Linked DNA regions of Homo sapiens: region 2 is linked to region 1. A link means that fine-mapping ties the variant in region 1 to the expression of a gene that starts in the linked region. Tissue or cell type: blood mononuclear cells. Region 1 holds a variant in brackets; the other region holds the start of a gene. All regions are shown on one strand. Distances are between the middles of the regions.

The links. PIP is the estimated chance that this variant, and not a neighbour inherited with it, causes the effect.
Region 2: AP2A1 starts here. The variant in region 1 is fine-mapped to the expression of AP2A1 in blood mononuclear cells (TOPMed, PIP above 0.99).

Annotation. Positions count from the first base shown.
Region 1 is chr19:49,860,256-49,868,708 of GRCh38, forward strand. PTOV1 (PTOV1 extended AT-hook containing adaptor protein) reads left to right here. Exons shown (of 12, transcript NM_001394010.1): 12 at 13-487. The coding sequence ends at 24. PNKP (polynucleotide kinase 3'-phosphatase) reads right to left here and starts at 7,321. Exons shown (of 17, transcript NM_007254.4): 1 at 7,214-7,321; 2 at 6,799-6,962; 3 at 6,144-6,190; 4 at 4,872-5,171; 5 at 4,069-4,148; 6 at 3,924-3,981; 7 at 3,709-3,816; 8 at 3,434-3,505; 9 at 2,435-2,483; 10 at 2,283-2,353; 11 at 2,116-2,208; 12 at 1,930-2,026; 13 at 1,789-1,850; 14 at 1,517-1,626; 3 more. The coding sequence starts at 6,949. The coding sequence ends at 993. RefSeq lists enhancers at 5,211-5,993, 5,994-6,776, 6,777-7,558 and silencers at 6,718-7,087, 7,158-7,457. The variant G/A (reference allele first, on the strand shown) is at 3,843.
Region 2 is chr19:49,762,889-49,772,348 of GRCh38, forward strand. It overlaps AP2A1 (adaptor related protein complex 2 subunit alpha 1), which reads left to right and starts at 4,113. Exons shown (of 23, transcript NM_130787.3): 1 at 4,113-4,312. The coding sequence starts at 4,246. It overlaps TSKS (testis specific serine kinase substrate), which reads right to left and starts at 418. Exons shown (of 11, transcript NM_021733.2): 1 at 190-418. The coding sequence starts at 359. It also overlaps the pseudogene RNU6-841P. RefSeq lists enhancers at 2,778-3,755, 3,809-4,577, 8,517-9,441 and a silencer at 3,668-4,247.

The DNA of each region.
Region 1 (8,453 bases):
TTCTCGCCGTAGATGGGGGGGTAGTGGTTACCCCGGGCTGGGCCCCTCCAGGAGTCACAGATGAGGCCCCCGCAGAGACTGGTGAGTGGTGACCCTGTCATGTACAGGAGGGACCCTGGGGCATGTGGGGGGGGTGGGGTTGGGAAAGAAGCAGGGCGACCTTGGCCTTGGGGAGAGCAGAGCAGAGGGAGAGGCAGCAGTCCCAGCGGTCCTAGGCTGTCGGGAAACTGCAGCCCAGCCTCAGGGCCATGGGAGGTGGTATCCAGGCCTGGGTGGGGCCAGGCCTCTGCTCACAGGGATGTGGGGTCAGTGCTTGGGAGCCTGTGGCCAGCAGCCCCCACTGCACCCCTGCCCCCAGGTGACACGCTTCTGAGCAGGGGCCCCTGGGGACTTCAACTGCCCAGCAACATGGAGGATGGTGTCCTGAGGCCTCCAAGGACGGTCCCCACCCCTCTACGTTTCCCCAATAAAGCCTTTTAAAAACCTGCCTGCCTTCTCTGCTCACTGCCCGATGCCTTGCAGCCCCCTAGCTCTAAGGTGGCCCAGCAGGCTGGACAGCCCGGGAACTCACTGGGTCTGGCTCTCGGCTGTCCACACCCTCTTCCCCCCCGAATCTCCAGACCCGCAGGCCTTGGGTTCAAGTTCAGTGTCACAGAACCTGAGCTGGATTTTGTCCTCAGGGGTCACACCTGGCCTTGAGCCAGCCCCTCGGTTGAGGCTCGTGGGCTCACCAGCTGGCTCTCGGGGGGCCACACAGCGCCCTCCCTGTGTGTTCCCCGGCTAATGTCTAAAGTGCTCATGCCAGGTCCCAGCTGGACTCCCCTCGGTAGGGCCCCACCTTTTGTTACCTGAAAATGTCCTTAAAGCCTCCTCCATGTAAGAAACTGGCAGGCCTGGAGCCCCTCCCCCGTGGGGACCACCCTCCTTCCAGCAAAATGCCGGCCAAGCTCAAGGAGAAACAGCGTTTATTGTGGAGGGGAGCTGGGCGGGGCTCAGCCCTCGGAGAACTGGCAGTACAGCCGCCCCAGCCTCGGCTCCACCCATAGCCGGAACGGGATCTCCAGGATGGCAGAGAAGCCTTCAGCCAGCGTTGGGGCCTCGAACTGCTTCCTGGCAGTGGTGGGAACAGTGAGGGACAGCCTGGATCATGTGGCCCAGCCAGTGCCCCTGCCCCCTGCTATCCCCAACAGTACCTGTAGCCATACATGACCATGTCTGACACGGGGATATGAGAGGAGTCCGTCATCTCTCGAAACTGTGGGGAACATCAGAGGGGCGGCAGGCCCAGGGGTCAGGGGAGGAGGGGGGTCAGGGGGTGCAGCCCGGGGGGTGTCCGGGCTGAGCGGGCTCACCCGGTTGTTGTGGCGCGCCTGCTCCAGAGTGGCGGTGAAGAGGAAGCAGCGGCAGGGGACGCCCGCGGCTCGGGCACACTGGACGTACCTGTGGGGGAAGGAGCTGGATGTGCAGGCCCCGCCCACCCCGCCGCAGGCCACCTACGGCCCCGCGGTCACGCTACCTGGCGCGGCTCGCGGCGTCTGGGTTTGTGTTGTCGATGGCGACCCGTTTCCCTTGCTTCAGGGCTGTCTCACACGTGGTCACACAGCGCTGCCAGGAGCCTAGCGTGTCCTGGGGACACGAGAGGTCACAAACAGATCGGCAGACCCAGGGGGAGAGAAGACCCCGAGCGGGGACGGGGAGGCAATGATGGAGGAAAGCCGCCCCAAACCAGTTGAGAGGTGGAGATGGGAACTTTATAATAGATTTGGGGCGGCAAAAGCCTGGTCATACCCTGTTCACGTGGACATATCCGGCCGACACGAGGTGCTTCTTGAGAAAGGTGGACTTCCCGGCTGTGTGGGGGGCAGTGTCGGTGGGTGGCCTAGGACCCAGGCGGGGCTCAGGGCACGCGCACAGGAACAGGACACTTACCCCCAGGGAATCCCACTGCGACAACCACCTCCGGGCTGGCGCTCAGGAGGGCCCTGGACTCGGGGAGGCAGAGAGGCCCTGAGCGGGAGACAGTCCTCTGCGAGGGGCGGGGGACACGCGTGAGATGCCGTCCCCATCCCCGGGAGCCCTCCCATCCCCACCCCCACCCCCGCCCCAGGGCCTCACCGGATCAAAGGCTGGGAGCTCGAAGCCGGCTGCTGGCCACTTGAGAAAGAACTCCTCAGGCGTGGCGAAGGGCAGGCCAAGGTTGAGGGCAAACTAGGGGTTGAGGACGAACATCAGACACAGGCCAGGGTCGGGCTCGGGCGCGGGGCAGGGGGCAGGGGCCTCACCAGGCGATCGGCGCAGGAGAAGTCTTTCTTCTTCCGCCCCGGGGCCCAGTTGGCCGGGCGTCCGGCTGCGTCTGGAACACACGGGACACCCCGTTCCCACCAGCTCGGAGGGAGGCGTCCCAGCCCACCCTCAGCAGCCTCCAGGCCCTTACCTCCCACAAAGATGCTGTCCCCGATGGATATGGGCGTGCCGTCGTTGGCCTACGGGAGACGGTAGTGAGGAGGCCCTTCCCACAAATGTCCCCCCGCAGCGGTAGCGGGTCCCTGGGGCTGCTTCGCCTGGTCTGTGCCCCACATCAGGAATCATCCCCCGACCTTTCATGTCCTCACTCTCCAGCCACTTTGCACCGTGCTCCTGGCCCCCTCCCCCCTCCGTGGTCTCTCCACACAGCCCCCTCCCTCCAGGTCTCCCGACTTCACCTCCTCCCGTTCCCCACGCGGCCACCGGAGGGCACCCACCCTGCTACAGCTCCAGCCTCCGGCGTGCCGGCGCCTCCCAGGTTCCCCCTCCCTCAGGGCAAAAGCGGGGCCCTCCCTGTGGCCCTGCCCTCTCCCCTCCCTCGCTTAGAGCCAGCCGCATGGGCCTCGCTGTCCCTAACTAGCCCAGGCTAGGGACTGCCTCAGGGCCTTTGCACTTGCTGTCACTCCCACAAGGGGGGGGACCGCTTTCCCCAGGTGTCCACCTGGCTCCCTCCTTTCCCTGCCTTAGGCCTTTTCCTCTGATGTCACCTCCTCAGAGGCCATCCCTGCCCACCACGGGTGATGCCTGCTTTCTCCAGCTCCCTCCCTCCTGCTGTTTTACACGCCAGTCTGCCCATCCGCCTAGAGTCACCGCCCTCGCCGTGAGGGCCCTGCTGGAGCAGGCCGTCCCGCTCACTGATACCTTCAGCTCAAGAATGCGCTAAACTTCAGAACAAATGCACACACAAACGAATGAACGAAGGAATGAACAGCTTCCCTACTACTCTGATGTAGAAAGTCTGAAAGCACTGGTCTCGTAAACCAACATCTAAGATGTCACAGCAAAAAACAGAAGGAGGGAGCGAGAGAGGACAGAGGAGTAAGGAGGCCCCAACCGGAGGCCGGGGAGCCCAGGAGTGAGGGGCTGGAGTGAGGAAAAGGAGGGGGGCCGGGCAGGCTGCAAGACTCACCTGCTCCTGCAGATGGTCCCACATGCCCGTCACCGGCTTCCGGTACAAGCCTGCGTGCGTGGCCACCAGCACCTGTGGATGGGAGGGGGCCACCAGCTTTAGCTCCCCCTCAAGCACCTACTGGATGCCACCCCAGCCCAGAATTTGTAGCTGATGATGGGTTCCTATCAGCATCACACTGCCTGAGGCCTCCGCCCCGCTTACCCTGGAGTCTAAAGCCCTCGCTCTGGATCTCTGTGCCCCCACATAGCTCCCAGCCTCCCTTCCAGCCATACCTGGAAGGGGACCCCCAGCTTCTCCACCACAGCCTCCACCTTGGCCTTGAACTCCTCGGCTGGCAGCTTCCCGCGCCCGATGCTCATCTGGTTGGTGAAGATCACCAGCTGGGGAGCAAAGGGTGTCACCAGAC[G/A]CTCTGCTCACCAGGGCCTTGGTCTGACTGCGGTCGGACCGCCACGTGCACGTGCCCATGCAGACAGGCGGCTGCACATACCTTGTAGCCCTCGGCTTCCAGCTCTCGGAGCTTACGGGGAATCTCTGGGTACAAGATCCTACGGCAGGTATGAAGCGGCAGGGGTGACCCGGGGCCAGAGGTGGACTCCAGGCCTCACTCACTCCCTTGTTTTGCCTCTTATCACCTCCAGTCACTGGGGCCAGTGGGAAAGACCTTCCCAGAGCGTGTGGTGATGAGCGTCCCGTCCAGATCAAAGCCAGCCACCTGGTGTCACCAAGGAAAGACAAACAGCAGCACTGTGATACCTCTGACCCTCCTCACTCACAGGCTGACTCACACCAACCCTGCCAGGCAGGGTGTTATCACTGCCATCTCACAGATGGGGAAACCGAGTCACAGAGCACCTCCATCTCAAGCATCCGTGATGCCTCTGAGTGGGGCCCGACATCTTAACCTTACTGTCTCCTGTTACTCCTTATGACGCCAGCCCCAGGATTACAGTCTTTAAAATGGGGGTTAATGTCTTACCCAGCCTCCTTCTTCCCCTGGCCTTCACCACCTCGGTGGGCTAATAACCGTGAAAATAAAAGCAGGAGCAAAGCTTTGGGTGCTAACTGCATGTCAGGAACTATGCCACGTGCTTTTTTTATGGATTCAGCATCGTAGAGATGAGACACATGGGACTCAGAATGTGGTGGTAACAGCATTTGAACTCAAGTCTCTCTGGACATAAAAAATCCTCATCGTAATAGCTCCTACTGAGACAGTCATGGTCATTGCTGATTACTGGGTGGTCACTGTGGGTAACGCAGGAGCTGACATATATCATTCTCCCCACTGCTTAACTGCTTACAACGATCCCTGCATTTATCATTAGGCCCATTTCTCAGAAAAGTAAGTAGAGGCTAAAAAGTTGAGAGCACGCAACAAACGTGGGATTGGGTCCCAGTCTGTGGCGGCTCCCTCAGCCCTCGGCGTGGCCCTCACCTTGCCCTGGGGTTTCACCCCAGCTGCGGTGAACACTAGCAACTTCTCCAAGTTCTCCCAGCCGGGGTTTGACTTCCGCATACGCTTCTTCGGCAGCTCAGCATCTCTCTTCTCATCTTGGGACACCAGAGGGGTGCCAGGCGGAGTATCTGGCTGGGATTCTGGTGTGCGGGTCTCTTCCCAGCGCAGGGTCAGTGGGTGGAGGCCATTGACCAAATACAGTGTGTCCCCCACCCCCAGAGAGCCCTCCAACCCCGGCTTCAACTCCTGGGTCCCGGTAGTTGAGGGGTTAACTCCCAGCTGCAGAAAGAGAGGGAGGAGCTGGGACTGGCTCCGCCCCCACCGGGAGCTTCCTCCAATCAAATACCCAGCGGAAAAATCAGCCCTTCTCCACCACTATCAGACCCTTAGGCCCCACCTCTTCACTTTGGAACGGGCTTTGGAACGGTTACAGGTTTTCAGCCTTGTCCGAATCTTTTTTTTTTTTTTTTTTTTTTTTCCCCTGGAGATATAGGCTTGTTTTGTCGCCCAGGCTGGAGTGCAGTGGTGCAATCTTGGCTCATTGAAACCTGTGCCTCCTGGGTTCAAACGATTCTCCTGCCTCAGCTACCCGAGTAGCTGGGATTACAGGCACCCGCCACCATGCCCCGCTAATTTTTGTATTTTTAGTAGAGATGGGGTTTCGCCATGTTGGCCAGGCTGGTCACAAACTCCTGATCTCGGGTGATCCGCCCGCCTAGCCTCCCAAAGTGCTGGGATTACAGGCGTGAGCCACCGCGCCTGGCCGCCTTGTCCAATTTCTAAGGTCTTGGACAGGTACCCACCCCACTGAAACAGGCAACACTTCTTTCTTTACTGGACACATCCCCTTCTCTCCCAGCCATATTTTTTCTTTTCTTTTTTTGAGACAGGTTCTCGCTCTGTCACCCAGGCTGAAGTACAGTGTGGTGATCACTGCTCACTACACCCTTGACCTACTGGGCTCAAGGGATCCTCCCGCTTCAGCCTCCCGATTAGGAACTACAAGGACGCGCCACCATTCCCGCTAATTTTTTAGAGAGACAGGTTTCACCATGTCGCTCAGGCTGGTCTCGAACTCCTGGGTTCAAGCGATCCGCCCGCCTCGGCCTCCCAAAGTGCTGGGATTACAGGCTTGAGCCACCACGCCCGGCCCCAATCAGATTTTCCTAATGTACCCCTTCACTGACGGCTTGCAATTCCTCCCCAAATCCCATCCCCAGGCCTTGCTGGCCCTTGCAGAGGCACTGATACCTGTTTCACTGCCACTGTCCGGGTCTCAGGATCTGCGACCAGCTCCACTGAGGATTGGAGGGGTGGAGTCAGGATTTGCATCCTTGTGTGATTGGGTCCCTCATTTCTGGGGAGTGTGGCCTGCTTCAGGCTATAGCATCCAGGGAGTAAGAGGCAGTTTATTTCTACATGGGATTGGCTCCTTGACATGCAGTAGCCAGATAGTGGCACTAGGATTGCCTGACACTGGTCCTTGCAAGGGACAGGGAGGTACTTTTCTCTACAGAATTGGTTTCCTCCTTGACAAAAAATGTGGCTAGATATAGGTCCGGGGCTTGGCCTGTTACCATCCATCCCAACCTAGCGACATTTACTTTTCTCCACAGGATCATTTTTCTCTTGACGAAGGTCGTCGCCTGTTTCTGGATTTCCCGATGGCCTGAGCATCATCCGCGCAGTGAACATCCTCCCTAAATCGGCTCGATCCCCTCTCCCCCAAAGGATCTAGCTAATTCTAAATCAAGCACAAACTTTATCTTCCTGTACTCCCTAGAGAGCACCTTCCGACTTCGGGGCTGGCTGCACCACTGCAATCCCGCGTAGCAGCCAAGCGTCCCTCTGGATTGTTCCCGCTTTTGCAGCAGGCCACACCCCCTCCAGCTCAGGCCCCGCTCACCTTGAGTTCTGGAGCACTTCCGGTCCGTAACCTGGGTCAGGGGTCCCCTGCCCAGGACCAGGGCTTGCCCGTCCGAGGGCAGGAAGATGGGGGGCGCTCCCCCAGGGGGGCTCTCGAGCCACAAGCGGCCCGGGGCCTCCACCTCGCCCATCCTGGGTGCCGGCCTGGGGAGCAGGTAAACGGGCTTGAGCGGCGCACAGCCCCAATTTGCTGCAGGAAGTCCCGCCTCCTCCCACATCCACTAGAAAGTTTCCCCACCATTAACTGCTCCGGAAGTCCCACCCGCTCGCCTTCCGCGGGTCGACCCGTTTCCCAGGCGACGACGCGTGCTCCATCCCTCCCCGAGTTGCAATCCCCACTTTCCAGCGTACAGGCAGAGAGCCTCGCACATGCCTCCGCCCCGCCCCGTACTCACCCGGGACCGCGGCTTGGGCTCACGGCCACTTCCGACCAGGGAGGTCCTGCCCGAGGTGCCCCGCCTGCAACCCGGCCGGCGGCGGTCGGTTCCTCGGCGGACGGAAATGACTCGTCCCCTCGTGGGTGGGGGGCGGGGCCTGGCCTCCTCCCACAGCAGCCACGCCCCTTCCCCGACTCCCGGCCCCCAGGGTCTCTCGGCAGCCCTGACCTTCATCTCTCTTGCTGCAACGCGAGGCTCAGGCCGGTAGCGGGGACTGGATCCTCCGTTAGCAGATTTGCCTCTTTCCACCTTGACTTCTAATTTTCATCCCAGGGAGGAAGATTTTTTTCCCATCTGATGGTCATTGTCAGTCGAGGAAACCTCCGCCCCCGACAGCGCCCCTAAGTCCTTCTTTGGCTTCACCCTCGATGTTCTAGTTTCCTCATCTATAAAAAGGATAATCGTTTCCGCTTCGTGGGGTTACCATGACGATTAAAGGAGCTAACACGTGACAAAAGCTTTAAAAAATGGGTGGTAGTGAGCCCTGTTTAAGTCTTTTTTTTTTTTTTTTTTTGAGACGGAGTCTCACTCTGTCGCCCAGGCTGGAGTGCAGTGGCGCGATCTCGGCTCACCTGCAAGCTCCGCCTCCCGGGTTGACGCCATTCTCCTGTCTCAGCCTCCCGAGTAGCTGGGACTACAGGCGCCCGCCACCACGCCCAGCTAATTTTTTGTATTTTGAGTAGAGACGGGGTTTCACCGTGTTAGCCAGGACGGTCTCGATCTCCTGATCTCGTGATCCGCCCACCTCGGCCTCCCAAAGTGCTCAGATCCGTTTAAGTCTTATTTAGTGTTAGCATTCTTTCGGTAGTGGTCTGGTGGGACTACGTTTACCTAGTCCTAATTTCGGACGAGGTTCCACCTGCTTTCTAACCTCCAGCCATTTTTTTTTCCCTTTGGAGAAGGGGTCTCACTGTGCTGCCCAGGCTGATCTCGACCTCCTGGTGTCATGTGATCCTCCCGCCTTGGCCTCCCAGCGTGTTGGGCTTATAGGCGTGAGGCACCAAGCCCAGTTGCTCCAGTCCTTTTATAATAGAAGACTCCCGGCTGGAGTTCCTGGCTTTGCTGGTGAATATGTGGGCTCTGTCTCCAACACTCACCTCCTCAAGATTGGGTTCCATGGTCACATAAGACTGGGATGCTCTCCTCCACCCCATGAACCTGTGTCTTCATATCTATAAAATGGGCACAAAGCCAGGCG
Region 2 (9,460 bases), 97 kb before region 1:
CCATCCCCATTACCTTCTTCCTCTCTACCTCCCTGTGACTTGATGTCTCTTCACTGCTGCCCTCTTTCCTGCCCCCGACCTGCTGGCTTTTCCCCCTCCCCTTCCTCTAGCACCCACAGTCGGACTCCTGCTCTGTTGGAGGTAGTGCTGGGCATTAGAACCATCCCTGACAGTGTGCAACAAACCCACCCGTGGAACGACACGGCCTTCTTTTTCTTCGGGATCCCCTTGGCCCGGCTGGTCACCCTCCGGGGAGCCTCTGGGACTAGCTGGGAGCAGCTCTCCACCCCCGTGGGGGTGTCCCCGGCCTCATGGATCTCTTTGGACTGCCAGATCGTCTTCACCACCACGCTCGCCATGGTGTGGGGGTCTGGCTCCCAGGGAGGGGCTCCTTCCTCTGAGACTTCCTACCTACTGTGACCACAGACCCTCAGGATCCACTGTCCCCTCAGCCTGCCTCACAAAGGACCCAACCACTGGGCCCCAGTGAGTGGGGGGCACAGGGTAGGGAGAGATGCTGGCCCAGGTCATTCCCCTAGGGTTCTCAGTGGACTCCTCCTGTTCAGGATTCTAGTTACATGCCCAATGTGCCCCCCGTCTTCAGAGCTCCAGTGGATGGATTCATGCTAGCCTGTAACTTAACAATGGGTCGGCCCACGGATTCTTGGGAGAGGTCCAACTTCCCTCTCCCTGAGACTAAGCGTGGGGTCACACAGCCCTGTGCACTTGTTCTTGATTCTTCATGTAGCTTCCTGGATTTGACAATTGGCTGGGGTTTGAGAGACTGTGGTCGAAGAGGGCTGAGATCCAGACCCTGACCTGGAGGGTCTCATATTCTATGGGGCGTCGGGGTCGGGGGAAAGGCAATATACAGGTAGATCAACAAAAGAAAGCTAGGTGCGGTGGGCCTCGGGGTCAGGGTAGAAGGTGAGGGAGGAGAGGAAGGTAGAGAGTTGGGGCAGGACAGAGGGTGGTATCCCCCTCCCCCGTTTATTTATTTATTATTTTCTTTAATACTTTTTATTTTTTTTGAGACAGAGTCTCTCTCTGTCATGGAGGCTGGAGTTCAGTGGCGCGATCTCAGCTCATTGCAACCTCCACCTCCCGGGGTTCAACCGATTCTCCTGCCTCAGCCTCCCCAGTAGCTGGGACTACAGGCGCTGGCCACAATGTCCGGCTAATTTTTGTATTTTTAGTAGAGACGGGTTTCACCATGTTGGCCAAGTTGGTCTCAAACTCCCGACCTCAAATGGTCCACCCGCCTTAGCCTCCCAAAGTGTGGGATTACAGACATGAGCCACCATGCTCCGCTATAATTTTTTTTTTTTTTTTTTAGATGGAGTCTCGCTCTGACACCCAGGCTGGAGTGCAGTGGCGTGATCTTGGCTCATTGCAACCTCTACCTCCCAGTTTCAAGCGATTCTCCTGCCTCAGCCTCCTGAGTAGCTGGGACTACAGGTACCTGCCACCACACCCATCTAATTTTTTTTTTGTATTTTTAGTAGAGACAGGGTTTCACTGTGTTGGCTAGGCTAGTCTCCAACTCCTGACCTCGTGATCTGCCCACTTCAGCCTCCCAAAGCATTGGAATTACAGGTGTGAGCCACTGCGCCCCGCCCGCCCAAAGTATTTAAAAAATATATGGAACATGTCACAAATTTGCATGTGGTCTTTGCGCAGGGCCCATGCTAATCTTCTCTGTATCGTTCCAATGTTAATACATGTGCTGTCGAAGCGAGCACTGCCCTGCTATTTAGGGACAGACTTTTCCTGTTCTCTTCACACTTCTCAAAAAGACTAGTTCAAACATCACTGCTAATAGACATTTTAAATGCTGTTATCCCCAGGGAGAAAGTACTTCTTCCTGGTCATGAATGGACTCCAGTTCTTGGAACACTTAATCTTTCTATAATAAAGAACTCCTGGCTGGGCGCGGTGTCTCACACCTGTAATCCCAGCACTTTGGGAGGCCGAGGCGGGCGGATCACCTGAGGTTAGGAGTTCAAGACCAGCCTGGCCAACATAGTGAAACACTGTCTCTACAAAAATACAAAAATTAGGCGAGCATGATGACGGGTGCCTGTAATCCCAGCTACTTAGGAGGCTGAGGCAGGAAAATCGCTTTAACTCGGGAGGAAGAGGTTACAGTGAGCCGAGATTGAGTCACTGAACTCCAGCCTGGGGGACAGAGAGAGACTCTGTCTCAAAAAAAAGAAAAAAAAAAAAGGCCGGGCGCAGTGGCTCACGCCTGTAATTCCAGCACTTTGGGAGGCCGAGGTGGGCGGATCACAAGGTCAGGAGATCGAGACCATCCTGGCTAACACGGTGAAACCCCGTCTCTACTAAAAACACAAAAAATTAGCCAGGCATGGTGGCGTGCGCCTGTAGTCCCAGCTACTTGGGAGGCTGAGGCAGGAGAATGGCGTGAACCCGGGAGGCGGAGGTTGCAGTGAGCTGAGATCGCGCCACTGCACCCCAGCCTGGGCGACAGAGCGAGACTCCATCTCAAAAAAAAAAAAAAAGAACTTCAAGTCCTGGGATTAATAATTTTTCTTGTGTTTAATGGGGCTGCTTTATGTTCTTCAGGGGCAAACAGCACCCCCCTCCCATATTAGAAATGGACTCTCCCTGTGACTAAAACAGCTGAGCAATTTCTGTCCTCCTGGAATCCAAAATGGACTTTCCCAGGCCCCATTCCTGGAAACCCAAATGGACGCATCCATTGAGCCTGGAAGGTGGGCTCTTCTCAACCTCCTTTCCATCTCCCAGGATTCAGAATGGCCATTCCAAAGGTCCAGAACACACCCCCAAGGCTCATTCCAGGAATTCTTGGCTTCTGAGATTAGAAAAGGCTGATGGGGTGGAGTTTTGTTCCTACAGGTGACAGAAATGGACTCTTCCAGTTCCCTTTGTCCCAAATTTCTCAATCTCCTGGGGCGTTGGGAGTTCTGGCCGTTTTGCCTTCCCCAAAGCCAGTTTACCAAAGAGTCTCTGGGGAGCTGGGGGTTGGGGATGGAGGCTGGGGCTGGGCCAAAGCAGATTCACCTATTTCTTCTTTTAACAAATGTTGTTGAAACTGTTCAAGGCCAGGTCCCATTCTTGCCCAGAAGGAGTTCCCAGTCTGGAGGAGACAATCAATTTTGGTTTGATATCTGCTACAATGGAGGCTGCCCGAGAGACACTGCGGTTGGACAAAAAAAAAAAGGCAACATATATTGAAAAGTAAGCCAAGATACGGTTTACGTTTATTTCTGCTTTTTCACTTCCAAGCTGTGTGGCCCTGGGCAAGTCATTCGCCCTCTCGACCTAAGTTTTAACTTCTGCTTAATGGGACTAGCCTTGAATTACTGTTTTTCACTCTGAGATTCTAGGTCTCCTGACAACTCAAGTCCCGACACGTTGGCTGCAGAGAAGGGGGGAGGGGAGGAAGGCTTCCTAGAAGAGGATTTCAGCAGTCGGGGGTGACAGTGGAGGGAGAAAGGGAACACGGAGACGCTTGCGCAGTAAACACCGCACGCTCTCTTGCCTCGCCCAACCCCTTCTCTGCAGCAGGGAATTGCAGGCGTCGCTCCACCTATCCCAGCCGAGCGGAGTGACACCCTCCCCTCTTTCCTTCTCTACTGATCTTCGCCTTCCGCCCGCCCCACAGCCGCCCAATGGAGGGCTGAAGTAGGACAGATCTCGCCAATCCGCGACGCCTGCGGGGCAGGTCTACCCGTTCATTGGTCCCAGTCAACCTAAGTCCCGCCTCCTAGGACCGTTCCCCGCCTTCCTTCACGTCCCTCCCTTCCTCCTTGGAGAGCCGCTAGATCCAATCAGTGTTTGACCTGGCCGCGCGGAGGGGGCGGGCCCATGATACGCAATCGAACCCCGCCCGTCTCTCGGGCAACGCCTCCTCCCCCCCCTCCCCAGCTCCCAAACGGAAATAGCGGAACACTGGGCCAATCGTAGCGTCGTGCCTTTGCTTGGCGGCCAATGAGAGAGGAAGTGGGGGAGAAACCCGCCTGTGAGCGGCAGGAGCTCAAGCCAGTGGGCGGCTCAGAGCTCCGGACCGCGGGCGGAGGGGAGGGGCAGGGGGCGGTGCCACGGCCTGCCAGCCCGCCCGCCCGCCCGCCAGCCAGCCCTCCCCGCGGCCGGCTCGGCTCCTTGGCGCTGCCTGGGGTCCTTTCCGCCCGGTCCCCGCTTGCCAGCCCCCGCTGCTCTGTGCCCTGTCCGGCCAGGCCTGGAGCCGACACCACCGCCATCATGCCGGCCGTGTCCAAGGGCGATGGGATGCGGGGGCTCGCGGTGTTCATCTCCGACATCCGGAACTGTGAGCGCGCGGCCGGGGGACACTGGAGACGCGGGGGAGGGGGGAGCGTGAAATTGAGGGGTTTGGGGATCACAGAGGGACCCGGGGGATCAAAAGCCTCTGCGGCCGTATAGGGACAGCATAGATGGGCCCCAGGAAGAACTTTAGAGTGGGGGGCACGTAGGGGCTTGGGGTGTCATAGAGTGCCTCTTGAGGTGACGACACGGAGTAGCTAGAGGGGTCCGGGAGGGCTTGAAAGGGGAGGAAGCCAGTGAGGTCCCGGGGATGGGAGCATAGAGGTGTCCCCTGGGAAAGACTGAAAAGCTGGGGGATCTTACAAACGATGGGGTTAGAGGGATTCCCAATGTAGAGAAGAAGTGAAAGAAGTGTATGGCGGGGGTGCCCTGTGGAGCGATGGAATGGGAAGAGGCCAGAGGGGACCTGGAGGAAGTGGAATGCCGGAAGCCTAATGAAGCAGGGCTTGAGGACCTGGGATAGGGGGTGTCATACAGGGGAAAGGGGTTAGATAGGTCACCGAGGCTCCTGGCCAGTGGTATAGAGGAGGCCTGAGAGTGGTTGAAAGTCCATGAGTTTGGGGCAGGGAGATGATGGGACGGGGAGACTATAAGGACACCCTGGTGAAGGATAGAGGGGCTTCAGGGTGGGAGATTGCCTAGAAGACATGGAAGGCAGTGTGGAGGGGGCTAGAGGGGCAGCTGAGGGGAAAGGAGGGACCCAAGGAACACAGAGGAAAAGAGCTGTCGGTGTAAGGTCTTGGGAGAACCTGTGACAGGGAACGGGGGGCCAGGAAAGAAGAGGACATTAGAGTAGGGGATTGGGGAAAGGGTAGAAGAAGGAGCGCCCAGACCTCAAGGAAGGCGTTGGGTTCTGAAGTGCTTGAGGGGTAGATATCTGGAAAGCTGGGAATAGGGGAAGTCTAATCCCAGAGAGAGGTCAGGGGTCAGGCAGCAGGACAGGCAGGGATCTGAGCCCTTTTCTATTTGACCACAGTAATATGGGGACGGTGGTCCCTGCCAGGAAGAGTTGTCGTGACGATGGGAATCCTGGCGGCAAGTCAGCTCTCAACTCCTGGGAATGGCTGTGGGTGATTGGAGCTGCCAGGAGTCTTCAGAGGCTGCATCCGCATGGGCTCTGGGGTCAGCCAGACTTGGGTTTGCGTTTGAGCACTGCCACTCCCTGGCTGTGTGACCTTGAATGAGGGACTTCACCTCTCGGTTTCCTCATCTGTCAAGAGAGACTGCTGATAGTATCTTCCTGAGGGGCTTGTGACAATGCCCCTCAGGCCTTTCACTCGTTCCAGGCCCCAGATGGAACTTGGCTATTGTTTTTACTCCGTTGGCTCTGAACAGCAGCCCTGTAAAGTACCCAGTGATGGTTGTTGTTTTAGAATTTAACTGTTATGGAAGGATCTGGCATGTAATAGGTGCTCAGGGAACAGGAGGGTGGAAACAGTTGAGTATCAGTTGGAGGAGAAATGATCACTTGTTATGATAAGGGGCGGGGCTATGGGGGTTGTGGAGGAGCTGGGAGCCACTGTTAGCAGACGGGGGCTGCCTCTGTTACCCACCAGGGATGTGACCCTCCACGAGTTGTTTAACCTCTTTCAGGACGTTTTCTTGTCTGCAAACTTCATTCATAACAGTGTCTTGCCTCTGAAGGCTCATTTATTCATTCATTCACTTGACAAATACTTTTTGATTGCTCTAGTGTTGTCCAGGCCCTGTTCTAGGTACTGGGGTGACAATAGTGAACAGAAATTCCTGTTCTTGCTGGTCATGGTGGCTCATGCCTGTCATCCCAGCACTTTGGGGGGCCGAGGTAGGCGGATCACCTGAGGTCAGGAGTTCAAGACCAACCTGGCCAACATGGTGAAACTCCATCTCTACTAAAAATACAAAAATTAGCCAGGTGTGGTGGTGGGTGCCTGTAATCCCAGCTACTCAGGAGGCTGAGGCAGGAGAATCGCTTGAACCCGGGAGGCAGAGGTTGCAATGAGCCGAGATTCACACCATTGCACTCCAGGCTGGGCAACAAGAGTGAAACTCCGTCTCCAAAAATAAAAAAAAAGAAAAAGAAACTCCTGTCCTTGGGAGCTCCCTTCCCCGAGGAAGACAGAACATATGCACAGGGAACACCCTGATATACAACCTCAGGACCTGACTGGTTCTGTGAAGAAAAATAAGGAGGAAATGGTCGGGAGAGGGACTAGGATGGAGAGGGTACTCAGTAGGCCTCGTGGAGGAAGTCATATCTGAGTGGAGCAAGCCCTGTGGATTTTGGAGGAAAGGGGTCCTGGCACAGGGAGGTGCATTCAGAGGTCCTGAGGTTGCGGCATGCTTGACATGTGTTCGAGCGAGAGGGAGAAGGTCAGTGTGGCTGAAGCTGTGGGAGTGAAGGGGAGAGAGGGCGGGTGTGGAGGGGAGTGGGAACAGGATCGGGAAAGGCTTTCTGGGCCATGGTGAGCACTTTGGCCTTTGTCTGCATGAGAATATTTTGAGCAGGGGAGGGATGTGACCGATTGATGTTTTAAGATAATTCCTCTGGCTGCTGTGAGAACAGATTCTAGAGGTAGCCATGGAAGCAGGGAACCAAATTAGGAGGGTGTTGCAGGCCTCTGGGTGAGAGATGGTGCTGGCTTAACAGGGTGAGAAGGGACTGGTGAGAAATGGGTTGGTGATACATTTTTTTTTCCGAGACAGTCTCTGTTGCCCAGGTTGGAGTGCAGTGGCACGATCATACCTCACTGCAACCTCCGCCTCCCAGGTTCAAGCAATTCTCGTGCCTCAGCCTCCCCGGTAGCTGGGATTACAGGCACCCGCCACCACGCTTGGCTAATTTTTGTATTTTTAGTAGACGCAGGGTTTCCCCATGTTGGCCAGGCTGGTCTCGAACTCCCAACCTCAAGTGATCTGCCCGCCTTGGCCTCCCAAAGTGCTGGCATTATAAGCGTGAGCCACTGCACCCAGCCTGGGATACAACTTGAAGGAAAAACTGTCAGGATTTGCAAAGGGATTTGATGATGGGGGTTGGGGAAGGAAAGAGATCGTCCCGTCACTGCAGGACCCCAGAGACGAGCCAGAGGACAGAGGGGAGATGCAGGCTTGGGGCACTGGTAGTAATTTAGCCACAGGAATTAGGGCTGGAGAATCAGGAGCCTTTTCTTAGCAAGCGTATGTTGAACGGCTGGTATGTCTCAAGAATTGTGCTGAATGCTGGGGACACTGGTGAACAGGACAGACTTGTCCACCCCCTCCATGAAGCTCCCAGCCCTGTGGGGGAGAAGGTGCAACATACAAATTGCAGTAGTCCTTCACACTAATACCTGGACACGGATGTTCACTGCAACATTATTCATGATAGCCGGAAAACAGAAACGGGCCAAATGCCCATCAACTGAGAAATAAAGTGTGGTCTATGTAGTGGAATATTACCGGGCCTTAAAAAATAATGACGTCCTGCTACATGCTGCCACAGGGATGGACCTTGAAAACATGACACCAAGTGAAAGAAGCCAGACACAGGAGGCCACGTGTTGTATGATTCCATGTTGATAGAGTATCTTGAATAGGCAGATCCATGGAGACAGAAAGATTAGTGGTTGCCTAGAGTAGGGGCTGGTGGGATGGGGAGTGACTGCTCATGAATGCATAGGTTCTTTTTTTATTTTTTGAGATGGAGTCTCACTCTGTCGCCCAGGCTGGAGTGCAATGGGGTGATCTCGGCTTACTGCAACCTCTGCCTCCCAAGTTCAGGCGATTCTCCTGCCTCAGCTTCCTGAGTAGCTGGGATTACAGGCGTGTGCCACCACACCTGGCTAATTTTTGTACTTTTAGTAGAGACGGGGTTTTTACATGTTGGTCAGGATGGTCTCGAACTCCTGGCCTCAGGTGATCCACTACCCCAGCCTTCCAAAGTGCTAGGATTACAGGTGTGAGCTACCATGCCCGGCAGCATTCAGAGCTTCTTTTGGGTTCATGAAAAAGCCTACAGCTGGACACGGCACATGCTTGTAGTCCCAGCTACTTGGGAGACTGAGGTAGGAGGATCATTTGAACCCAGGAGTTCGAATCCAGCCCGGGCCACATAGTGAAACCTCATCTCTTAAAAAAAAAAAAAAAAAAAAAAAGAAAGGTCCTGGAATTCGATAGTAGTAATGGTTGCACAACATCATGAATGTACTAAAGAACGCTGAATTGTTCACTGTAAAAGGGTCAATTTTATGGTATGTGAATTGTATCTCTTTTTTTTTGTGACAGTCACAAAAATGGCGCGATCTTGGCTCACTGCACCCTCCATTTCCCAGGTTCAAGCGATTCTCCTGCCTCAGCCTCCCGAGTAGCTGGGATTATAGGCGCCCGCCACTATGCCCCGCTGATTTTTGTATTTTTAGTAGAGACAGGGTTTCACCATGTTGGCCAGGCTGGTCTCGAACTCCTGATCTCGAGTGATCTGCCTGCTTCAGCCTCACAAAATGCTGAGATTACAGGTGTGAGCCACCGCGCCTGGCCGTATCTCGATTTTTTTTTAAATGGGGAAAGAATTTGCAGCTGTCCTAAGCCCAGTGAGGAAGAGGGCCATGGTGTTGAGAGAATGGGGATTCTGTGTGGTCAGCGAGCTGCGGCCTGGCTTTGCTTCACAAGAGACCTTTGGAGCTGTGTGGGCAGGAAGTAGGGGAGTTACCTAGGCTGAGGGCAGTGAGAAGAGCTGTGAAGGCAGAGGCGGGGCAAGTGCAAAGGTCCTGACTTCCGGACGCCATGGCGGGCATCTCTATCTAGTCCCAGCTACTCAGGAGGTGGAGGCAGAAGGATTGCTTGAGGCCAGGAATTTGAGACCAGCCTTGGCAACATAGCAAGACCCTGTCTCTCTTTCTTTTTTTTGACAGAGTCTGGCTCTGTCATCCCGGCTGGAGTACAGTGGTGCGATCTCAGCTCGCTGCAACCTCCTCCTCCTGGGATCAAGCTATCCTCCCGCCTCAGCCTCCTAAGTAGCTGGGACTATAGGCACATGCCATCATGCCCAGCAAATTTTTTTGTATTTTTCATAGAGTTTTTTTTTTTTTTTTTTTTTTTTTTTTTTTGAGATGGAGTCTTGCTCTGTCGCCCAGGCTGGAGTGCAGTGGCGCGATCTCCGCTCACTGCAAGCTCCACC